Homo sapiens: one gene and its partners. Changing the gene in region 3 together with the main gene of any one other region gives a genetic interaction. Each region holds a gene or a part of one and is shown on either strand. Other genes may lie near its edges.

Region 1 (3,780 bases), on a different chromosome or scaffold from region 3:
GCTGGGGTCTCTGCTCCCCGGCCCAGTCCACTCCCACGGCCCCATGCCACCCATACCTGGGATGGCATCAGGGGACAGCTTGCCAGTGGCCAGCATGATGTCGCGGAAGTTGAGGGAGGCGTAGTAGACCGTGCAGAGCTGGGCGCCAGGGCAGGTGGGCTGGGCATGGCGCAGCGAGGAGCAGACCCAGCGGATGGAGGACAGGTCCCCCCGGGTGAGGGTGCTCACAAAGGCATGTGCCGTCGGCTCCTCAGGCTTGTCTAGGGAAACAGGGAGGTGGGGCTGCTGCGGGGCCTTCGGGTGCAGTCTCCCGGGAGGGGCAGGGCAGTGTCGGGGGCTCACCCTCCTCCAGCAGGAAGTGGCGGAAAGCCCCCCAGGCCCCGTCGCGGTAGACGTTCATCACCAGGTCTCCCTGCAACACCTTCTGCAGTTCTGCGGAGCCCGGGTCCACCTCCGGGACGTGGGAGGTGCTGCTGAGGTTGGAGAGCAGCACACACCTGGGGGCAGAGGCGGGGAGCTCAGGCTGGGGATGGGGAGGCTGGTGGGGAAGGGGAAGTGGTGAGGGGCCGTGCTCCTACCGGAGGCGGTTCCCGCCGGGCTCTCGGCGGAGACAGTTCACCAAGCCCACCACGCCCGAGGTGGCACAGTTGATGGCCTTCAGCCACACAGGCCGGGAAGAGTCTTCGTCAGCCAGGATGCCCTACAGCGGGTCGGGGAGGGTCAGGCCACACTCGGCAAGTTGGGAGGTGGGGTGGGGCCTGGAGGTGGGGCAGGGCCTGACCTTCAGAGACTCCACCCAGCGGAAGCTGGTATCGTCCACCGGCAGGAAGATGGGGCTGTCCTGCGGGGTGGGCCGGCGGCACAGGAAGAGCGTGGAGCCGTAGAAGGACTTCTTCAGGCCCACCAGGCGCAGCGACACCCTGGAGAAGAGGCTCTCCCACGCGTCCTGTGGGGGCGGTGGTCAGCACCCTGCCCGCCTGGCCCTCACCCGGCCCCCACCCTGTCCCCCTGCCCGGCGGCCGCACCTGGCTCAGGATGCCCTGGCCATACTGCGGCTCAGTGGAGGTGAGGAAGGCCACGATGTCCCCGAGGGGGTGCCCCCGGAGCAGTGTGTGCAGGAGCAGAAAGCCCCCTTCTCTCAGGGCAGCCACCATGTTGCTGAGAGCTGAGGCCGGGTCCCCGAGGGCAGCCACAGCACAGTTGCACACCAGGAGGTCGGCGCTGCCCAGGGCGCTGGGGGCAGGGTCTGCGGGATCCCACTGGCCCTGGGCAACGTCGTGCTGCTGCAGCTCGGCCTGGGCAGCCTCCAGGGCCTGGGGGTGGCGGTCGGTGGCCGTGTAGCTCAGCTGCAGCAGGGGATGGGGGCTGAGCAGGCCTGGGATGCGGGAATACAGGTGACCGTGGCCAGCCAGCACCTGTAGGGGGTGAATTCTGGAATCAGCCCCACACCAGGCAGGTGCCCCTGACCTGGGGCTGGGCAAAATGTCCATGAGGCCTCAGTCTGGCAGAAAGGCTTCCCCGTCAACCTGATGACGGTGCCAGCCATGGGCACGCATGGATGCCACTGGTCTTGTCCCTGGGGTCCTGCCTAGGCTGCACCTCTTGGAGCCCACGGGCGGACCCTCCACGGTGGCTGTGTGGACCGCACAGGACACGTGCACAGAACCACACAGGGAACTGGCCGGCCCCACCCACCGCCCAGGGCCCGCCCCGTGTCTGTGCTGTCTCCTGCAACTGATGTCAGGGTGGGTCCTACCATGTCCGGGGCAGAGGCCTGGCTGCCCAGGAGGCACCCACCTCCACCACCTTCATCTTCAGGCTGGGCATGTTCTCCACGGCAGTGTCCAGGCAGGCCTTGAGTGCCGGGGAGTCCAGGAGGCCGCTGAGCAGAGGGTCCTCTGGCAGCTTGGGCCTCTCCTGGGCCAGCACCTGCGCCAGCTCCAGCTGCAGGTTCCCGTTGAGCTGAAGCCTGCAGGCAGCCGACAACAGCCGGGGCAGTTCCTGCTGTGAGGGGTCCCGGGGGATCTGGGCCCCATCCAGTCCGGGCACCACCATCTTCAGCCCCTGCTGGGTCACCTTGGTCTGCAGTGCCTGCACCAGCCCTGGGGAGGGAGGGAGGCAGGCCTGGTGTTCCCAAAGCCCCAGGGCATCTGCCTGGCATGGGCTCTCAGACCCACTCTGTCCTTCTGGGGCCACCACCCCGCTCTGCCCACAGGATGAGAAATAGCTGAGGGTTGAGGAAGGGGCTGCCCACCACTGGGAGGCTGACTCCTGCCCACTGTGGACGCAGTGAGGGGCCGCATTCAGCTGCAGGGGCTACTCTGTGCCTAGCCAAGGTGTGACCTTAGGCTGAATCTGTCATCTTTGCCCCCAAGTACCCTTTCAAGACTGAGGAACAGTGACCAGGGACGAGGAAGGCTGGGGGCTGGGGGAGGGAGGGAGGCCGCCATCGTGAGCTCCGGCCGGAGGGTTGGGCTAGGGTTGCTGACCCCAAAGGGGGCCCCGTGGAGAAGCAAGTCTGGGGTCAACGTGAGGGGAGGCGATCGCTCCTCATCGCCAGAGGTGTCCGAAGCCAGCAGGGCTGGGACCTCACCCTTGCACAGTTGCAGCTCCTCCTGCAGGGCAGCGCGCTCAGACAGGCACCCCTCCTCCGTGTGGGGAGTGAAGCAAAACTTCTCCAGGATGGGCACCTGCTGCTCCTGCTGCCGCCGCGGGGCCGACTCAGTGTGGAGCCCGGAGATGTGGACGCCTCCGGCCACTGTGACCCTCAGCCACCTGCTCACCACCACGTCAGCCACTGTGGGGACAGGCTGGGTGAGTGCGGCATACTTGGGTGGGGGCACTGGGCTGGGGCTGGGGCGGGGCTACCTTGGGCCTTGTCCTGCAGTGTGTACAGCTTCTGCCTGTGGGTGGCAGGGTCGATGTGGATGGCGGTGACACGGGTGGGCAGGTACAGGCCGTGCTTGGCCGAGCCCAGGATGGACATCTGCAGCATGGTGTCCATGAAGCTCACCCAGTTATCCTTCCACAGCAGCCTCCCCGAGTCACCTGCACACAGGGCCTGGTTGGTGCTGTGGAACTCCCAGGTCCCTGGGGCCACCTCCCAGAGCCCACCGGGCCCCTCTGCTCCCTCCCAAGCTGCATGCCTAGCTGTGGGTGCCCTCTGTGGTCCCCACAATGACGACCGCCCTCCCCGGTGGCTTGGGCAGCAGTGTAGTCAGTACCCACCTTCCAGGCTGGCCTCCAGGATGCCCTGGAAATGAGGGCCGTAGTCGTAGCCACGCAGACGCAGCTCCTTGTAAACTTCAGCCTGGGCCAGGAAGAGGGGCTCCGTGGGGTTGGGGGTGGGGCTTTCCGGGTGGTCGAAGAGCCTGGGGTCAGGGTCATCCCACTGGTACACCTTCCCTGTGGAAAGGGAGGTGCGGAAGGGCCTGAGGACGGGCGGCATGGCCAGCGGGCACAGCCTCCGCAGCTCCCGTGCCACCGGCCCTGCTTACCACTCACTACCAGGTTGCCGTTCTCTGACACCTCGAAGGCACGGGAGGCCTCCAGGAGCCGTACCTCCAGGGACACTGTCCCTGCAGAGCGGGAGAGTTGGAGATCAGAGGGCAGCACCCGCCCCCCAGCTACCCCCGCCTTGGTCCTGGGGTACCCCTCACCAGTCTTGGGCAGGATGGTGGCCTGGTGCAGCACCACATCCTCAAACACCACAGGCAGCTGCTCGACGCCCAGGCCCAGGGCGCGGGCCAGCGTCTTCCACACTATGCTCAGGTAGCCAGT
Region 2 (3,780 bases), on a different chromosome or scaffold from region 3:
AATTCTCCTTTTCTTAAGGCAAAGAATACTTCCAGTGTCATGGTAGGGTAGGTAACCTGCCTGGGTTCTCATTTAATATAATGTCTTGTAAGTATATCACCTTTCACAAAGGAGACTGGCTTGGAGAAGTCAAGCATGTTGCCCAAGGTTACCGAGGAAAATAGCCTATACACAAAGACTATGTACTCTTCCTAACCAGTGAACCAGGGATACAGTTGGTCATTCACCTTTAAGTCTACTAATCCCGATTAGCTTATGGGGAAAACCTCAGAAAGAGATATAAAATTCACATCGTTTCTGATTAATTTTGAGAAGAAAAGCCTCAAGATCTTTCCCACCTCGACACCTAAGCCCTAGGTCTTAGTGGGGGCGACGTCGTAGACAGAAATCCCACATCTAAAAATGTGAGAGCATAGTGGTTAAGGGTATGCATTTTGAGGCCAGGCATCATGGCTCATGCCAGTATTCCCAACACTTCGGAAGGTCGAGGTTGGGGTATGGCTTGCACCCATGAGTTCGAGACCAGCCTGGACAACATGGCGAAACTCCAACTCTACAGAAAATAAAAAATCAAAAATAAATATATTGAAAATTAGAAATTTTTTTAATTAAAAAAAAATTTGCATTTTGGAGACAGGACTGGAGTATCTATTCTACCACTTACTAACCTGCTCCATATCTTAGCCAAGTAAGGCTTTCTTCATCAACAGTGTTAATAACCCAGGGTAGGTGTGAGGATTAAATGACAACCTCCTTAGTGTGATGCTTTTACAAAGTAAACACTGAAAGAGTAGGTTTAATGGTTATCACCCTAAGGTCCCATGGAAGTCTCAGTTGTTCTAATTCAAGATTACCATGTAGCACCCTAGGCAAACAGGTTACATTATTCCCTGATTGTAGCTATCTGGGGATTGTAATCCTCAACCCTTTCTAGAGGTTCTGGGTCCCCACTGTGTTGTATTCACTTAGCAGACCTCTGTGATAACCCCAGTGGTAAACTCAGACTACACCTATGTCAGGTTCTTTGCTATGTTCTGTTAAAGCCAAAAAAAAAAGGACCAAGACAAGGTCCCTGCTATGTGTCCCGAGGAGAATGGAACAGTCACAGAAACAAATCAAGCAGCAGAGCAAATGCACAGTTCAGGGAGGCTACAGAGATTGGGAGCCCTGAAGCAAGGCTGTGTCACAGAAGTGAGGTATGAACACGTAGGGGCTGGACTTGTCAAAGAGCATAGAGGTATTCAAGAGATAAACAGTATGGGTAGGATACCTAACCAATGGTTAAGACTGGATCATAAGGGTCTTGTAATACCATGCTGAATTTGGACTTCACTGTGTAGGCCCAGGGAAACTTTAAACCATGAAGTGACAAGACCAGAAAGATCACTCCAATGGTCTCATGAAAGATGGACTGGCAACAACAGCTCAGGACTGGAAAGTGAGAGCTGAAACATTAGGCCAAGAGCCCAGGCTCACCTCCTCCAGAGGGCCTGCCCTGAGCACCACACAGCCGGGCTGTGCTGTGAAACATCCCTTTCTGCTCTCAGAAGACCTTCCACATACCACATTCATGACGTGAATAGAAATTAACCAAATCCATATTTTGCCTCAACAGAAAAAGGAATCGCTCTATGTTTATGTATTTCCAGAGACAGCACCGAATCTGCCATATAGAGAATGTGCTGAATGGCTCAATGGCTCAATGAGTCATTCTGCTGTTGGGGCAGAAGAATGAGTCCAACCTGAAACTTCATCTGAGATAAATGCCTGTGGGACAATTTGGAGATGTACACCGGAGGACAGTGGGACATGCCATCTGGCAGTCAGGAGAGAAGGTCTAAACGAGAGGTCCAGATTTGGAAGTGAAGACATGGGAAACGTAATCTAGGGCAGTGACAGGGCCTGAGGACAGGTCAGGCAGGCCAATGTGGCAGAAGAGAAGCCAAGGTAAGGAGAAGCTCTAGAAAAGGGATGAACAGAGGACCAATGAGAATGGCAGGCAGAGATCCACAAAGTGATCCAGAAGATTTCTGGTCTCAAGTATGCTGTTTACATAAAAACGAGTTACCAGTTGTTGGTATTAATTCAACTCTTGGGAAATTTATAATAATGTTATTTTATAACATTATTATAGGATAACAAAGCAAGACAGAAATCAATTTAGCACATGCATGTTTATCTCTTTAATTCCTCTGTGAATCTAACATACAGATGACTAGGTCCCATAGGACACAGGAAAAAAAGCAACATGTTGCGAACAAGTGTCAAAATAAAGCACTGAATTAGTCTTTAAGCCTTGCTAACCACTAATTGAAGTAGCTTTGATAAAAACTATTTGAGGCCAGCACAGTGGCTCACACCTGCAATCCCACCACTTAGGGGCAAGCAGTGAGGCTAAGGCAGATCACTTGAGGTCAGGTGTTCAAGACCAGCTTCGCCAACATGATGAAACCCCATCTCTACTACAAATACAAAAATTAGCTGGGCGTGGTGGCAGGCGCCTACAATCCCAGCTACTCGGGAGACTGAGGCACGAGAATCATTTGAACCCAGGAGGCGGAAGTCGCAGTGAGCACTACACTCCAGCCTGGGCTATAGAGCGACACTCAGTCTCAAAAAAAAAAAAAAAAACCTATTTGATAACCATAAATTGATATGCCTTACTTTTTTTTCTTTAAATAGGGAGAGGGTTTCACCATGTTGGCCAGGGTGGTCTCAAACTCCTGACCTCAAGTGATCCACCCACCTTGGCCTCCCAAAGTGCCGGCATTATAGGTGTGAGCCACAGCACCCGGCCAATTGATATACTTTTGATTAAAGCTGTTTACATTAGTCTCTCCCACTAAACTGGGTTCCCAGGCTTACAAGGGCAATGACTGGGGATCTCATTCATTGTCATACTCTGTCTACACGAAATATTCAGCAGGTGTCAAGTCTGCCATTTTCCTTTAAATTAAGAACACAGTTATTTGGTTGGGCTGTATTTGATGGGGGTAGGGGTAAGGAAGGGGAAAAAAACTGAGGGAAAACTGTCCTCTCTTAAATACATAGGACATGAAGAGGAACTGAGTTTGCTTTCATTATAAACTCAAGCCTGCCTCAAAATACCAGATTCTTTTCCCATGTCCTTGTGCTTGCCAAACGCATGAATTTAGACTCACCCACAATGTAAAACTCCAAAACCTTCAATTTGGCCTAACTTAGAATTCATAAATTTGGCTAAGCAAATAATATGCAAGAGTGAATTGTGACATTGTATTTACCCTAACTATGGTGTTTCCAAATACATTTTAAAAGAGCACCTTAACAGTTTTCACTTCAGACAAATCAGATAATAAGGACACCCAGTTGAAGTCACTAATCTATGTTACTAGTTAATAATGGCCCTAGTACTAGAACCATTCAAATTACTTTCTTTAAATATTCAAATTAAACTACCATTCTCCTTAATACACTGATGTTCTCACAAACCAGTACAGCACAACTCAGTATAATTTATGTTTCTGTAGATTCTTTCAAGGGGCCCTATTACTTCACCACAACACTGTCTTAACCACATGAATTAGAGGTATGAACCCTAAGAGTAAGAATGCATTCAGTCTCCAATCTATACTGGATTAGTGCTACATTATAAATTTATTGAAGGTAAAGATCATTTTCTTCCTAGACAAAGCCTTATATTTAAGTTTTAAAGCCTCACAACTTAAACATGTGAAAATTATAAACAGTCCCTTCAACTGTATCATTGCTTAAAACTCCCAAAGTTCAGGAAAACAATAA
Region 3 (3,500 bases):
TTTTTAACTTTCTCTTCCTATTTTTTAAAGAGTAAGTGCTCCCCCTAGTGATATGAAAGAGTGAGATTTCTGCAGTCAAATCAGTGGAAATAAACAAGTGTTGTACCATGTGAGAACTCTGGCGTACTTCTTCTTGGGTTCAAGACTAGGATAGGGTAGCAATGAGACAGTAAGGAAGAACTCCAGTGATTAAAGCTTTGCTACTCACCTAGCTTTTGGTTGTTTTTCTTTTAAAATACCTATCTTATTTGCTATCCCAAAGTGGAAAGTTGTGTGAAAAACTCCTTTGAATGCCCTCCTTTTTATGACGTGTGTCCCCACATTTACTTTCATTATTGTCTTGATTTCTGTTTTTGATGCTTGCTTCCTTTCAGTATTGTTTTAGTGAGGCATGGTTTGTGTGTGTGTGTATGTGTGTGTGTGAGAGAGAGAAAGAGAGAGGAAGAGAGAGAGATCACATTTGTGTTGTGCATGCATGTGTATATGTGTATATAGGTGGTCTTGAGTGACCAGTATTGCTTGCTCAGTTTTCTTTAGTGATACACAGGAGAGGACTTTTGCATTCTTCACAATTAAGATAGATAGTTGGTTAGTTAATACAAACAATTGGCTAGAATCATAAAATCACAAATGTTACATATTTTCAACATCAAATTTTAATGTAAACTATAAATATATTTTCATTTGCCAATCTTTTGATGTGAAGTCATGATCTTTTCTTTGAGTATGGGTCTGCTGATTAAAGTTTGAAATTCTCCTTCTTTCATAAATCACCCCATAATGCATTTACAATATCAAGTTCAGTTTTCTTTAAAGTTGAACAAGAATTTAAATTTGCTTATGAAGCAGTCTGAAAGCATGGTTCTAGGTTTTTATGATTTTCTACTTGTGTTTTAAAAGTTTTGTTCTTCCATACTTTAGTAGCAATTTTCTTTGACAACTTATGTTTATTGAATTTAGTTTTTCTAAAACTTTTAACTTAATTTGATAGAAACAAATATATGTGTTCATATATTTAGGTAATATTTAATTAAATTATGTAATTGCAACAGCAAGTGAAATTTGAAATAAACTAGTTTGAGAACATACTTAGCTGACTCTTAATTACAACTCAATTAGTGAGAGTGGAATTCTGTGGGCTTTCCAGAGAGTAGCCTATTAGCGACGAGCTTTCAGCTTGCAGTTGCAAGGGAGTAGAGAGTATTGCTTAATCAGGTCTTTTAACATCTTGTCACATCTCAAACACCTTTGTTTGAGAGAGATACATACCATCTCCTTTCCAAGTGTGCTCTGTGATGATCTTGCTTCATTCTTGATATTCCTCTCCTGTCTCTCTGTTGTATTTGTTCCCATGGTCTGGTTTGTTCTTTGTTTGCCTTTATAGATTTAAAAAAGTAATGAATTTGGAATATCAGTTAAAGAAGTACTTTCATAAGCTTATATTTTATTTTTTAACGCGAACTTTGAATGTATGCAGAAATGTGCACAAATCATAATACAGCTTGTTGAATTTTCACAAGTGAACACACCCATGTACCCAGTATCCAGATTAAAGCATAGAACATTATCATGTTAGCTTAGTAGCTTCCTTTGTATTCCTGTCCCAGTGCCCTGTACTTCCTGCAAAGGGTAGCTACTCTACTGACTTCTAACACTATACATTGATTTACCTGATTTTGCACTTTATATAGTAGGAAGCACTCTGTGTACCTTTTGTGTATAGCTGCTTTTGCTCAATATTTTAAAAAAGAGATTTATCCATATTGTTGCATGGAGCAACAGATTGTTCATTCTCATTGCTGTATACTATTCCATTATGTGAATATACCACAATTTATTCATTCCACTGCTGATGGACATTTGGCTTAGTTTTCAGTTTGGGGCTTTTATGAATAATGCTGTTATAATCATTCATGTACAAGTCTCTTGGTGAATACATGTGTGCATTTCTTTTAGGTATCATTATAGAAGCCGAATTGTTGGTCATAGCATATGCCTATGTCCAGCTTAAAAGATATTGCTAAACAGTTTTCCAGTGTGCTTTGACCAGTTTGTACTTCTGCCAGCAGTGTCTGAGTGGTCCCAGCCTATATATTTTTAGGAAACAAAAGTGACAAACTTCTAGTACATAATTTCTAGCATATCAATAATGAACTTCCTAGTTAATAGCCTTTAGATGTTTCGTTTCTCTGTGCATGACTTACACCATCTAACTTTTTTTCTTTCCCTACAAGAAGGGGAGTTCTATAAGGTTTTACTTGGCTACACTGTTGGTTAGAAGACTCTCAGTTATTAGATTGTCTCTTAGGAGATGAGGCATGTTGTGTGATTAGTTTTTCTTAGAAAAAGAGAAACAAAGTGGATATTGGAGTCTACCTGCTTATGGGAGTGCTATTCTCAGTCCCTGTGCTTTTAATGATTCTAAGAGGTCCTCATTAAAAAAATTGCCCACGTTGTCATCCTCTGTGAAGATGATGTACAAATGACTTGCCTTTCTACATGGAAATTGCAGGCATCTTCATTTGTATTTTTTAGGACAGAGGGATCACTGTTTAATATATTAAGAGCAGTATATAATGGATTCCAGCTGTATACCTTCCATTATTGCTAAGGCCAAATTACTGAAGTCTTTGGCAAACCTTGAATTCCCTGTTTTGGAAAAGTACGAGGTCTGTGAATATAAAGGGTTTGGAGATTGTTTCCCATCTCTGTTTCCTTGTCTTTTGTTATGAGAACAACCATGGGAGGCATCTGTGTCTTTTTTCCTACTTACCAAACACTCAGAAAGGTTTCTTTGTGACATCTGTAGAAAGCAGAATGCTCTCATGGGATCTATAGGAAAAGCTTGAAAATAAAAAGTGAAATATTTTCATCAATGTAAAAGTGACCCATATAATGTCATTGAAAAGACCTCTGAAAGCGTAATAACATAATGTGATGTGAGAGAATTGAGCAAAGTTTTCATCTTGTAAGCATAGTGTTTTATTACTTTAAAAAAGCCTATACAATTCTGTAGTACAAAATAATTTCATAATATAGAATAATAAAATACATTAAAATTAATCTATAAAATAAGATAATATATAAAGCAATATAAAATAAATGAGTATACATATTTGAATAATGTGTCAAGTTATGTAACTATCAATGTAATCATATTATAACATATGTATATCATAAATGTATATGCATGTGTGTGTATATGTTTATTTTCATGAGCAATTAATTCATCCCAACGCTCCCTCTTGAGAAGTAGCTAAGTGAGACACAGGGACATAGGAAGATTGAGTTCTATCATAAATTATAACTAATTAGTTCCCAGTAAAAAGTGGGAGTTGTACTGCTTGGTTCCCAGTCTTGTAATGTTGAATTGTGCAGTAGTTTCTTAGTATTGACATTAAGAATTAGAGGGCTCACCATACCAAGTGGTAAAATTCATAGCTTTCTTTTTTTTTTGAGACACGGTCTTGCTCTGTTCCCAGGCTGGAGTGCAGTGGTGC

Evidence for each region. Genes that interact genetically often act in the same process or in processes that back each other up.
Region 1: changes in PPP4R4 (region 3) and FASN together harm fitness less than expected from each alone (positive genetic interaction), as found in Homo sapiens cells (one large-scale study listed by BioGRID).
Region 2: changes in PPP4R4 (region 3) and HAPSTR1 together harm fitness less than expected from each alone (positive genetic interaction), as found in Homo sapiens cells (one large-scale study listed by BioGRID).

What each region holds. Positions count from the first base shown.
Region 1 is NC_000017.11:82,084,457-82,088,236, forward strand, and holds part of FASN (fatty acid synthase), read right to left. Parts: coding exon 3,660-3,780; intron 3,579-3,659; coding exon 3,498-3,578; intron 3,406-3,497; coding exon 3,229-3,405; intron 3,049-3,228; coding exon 2,869-3,048; intron 2,798-2,868; coding exon 2,594-2,797; intron 2,103-2,593; coding exon 1,798-2,102; intron 1,416-1,797; coding exon 1,026-1,415; intron 947-1,025; coding exon 782-946; intron 701-781; coding exon 579-700; intron 498-578; coding exon 343-497; intron 261-342; coding exon 57-260; intron 1-56. UniProt on the Homo sapiens protein: Fatty acid synthetase is a multifunctional enzyme that catalyzes the de novo biosynthesis of long-chain saturated fatty acids starting from acetyl-CoA and malonyl-CoA in the presence of NADPH.
Region 2 is NC_000016.10:9,105,144-9,108,923, reverse strand, and holds part of HAPSTR1 (HUWE1-associated protein modifying stress responses 1), read right to left. Parts: exon of another isoform or gene 2,160-3,780; intron 554-2,159; coding exon of another isoform or gene 420-553; exon of another isoform or gene 1-419. UniProt on the Homo sapiens protein: Acts as a central player within a network of stress response pathways promoting cellular adaptability. The E3 ligase HUWE1 assists HAPSTR1 in controlling stress signaling and in turn, HUWE1 feeds back to promote the degradation of HAPSTR1.
Region 3 is NC_000014.9:94,180,822-94,184,321, forward strand, and holds part of PPP4R4 (serine/threonine-protein phosphatase 4 regulatory subunit 4), read left to right. Parts: intron 1-3,500. UniProt on the Homo sapiens protein: Putative regulatory subunit of serine/threonine-protein phosphatase 4.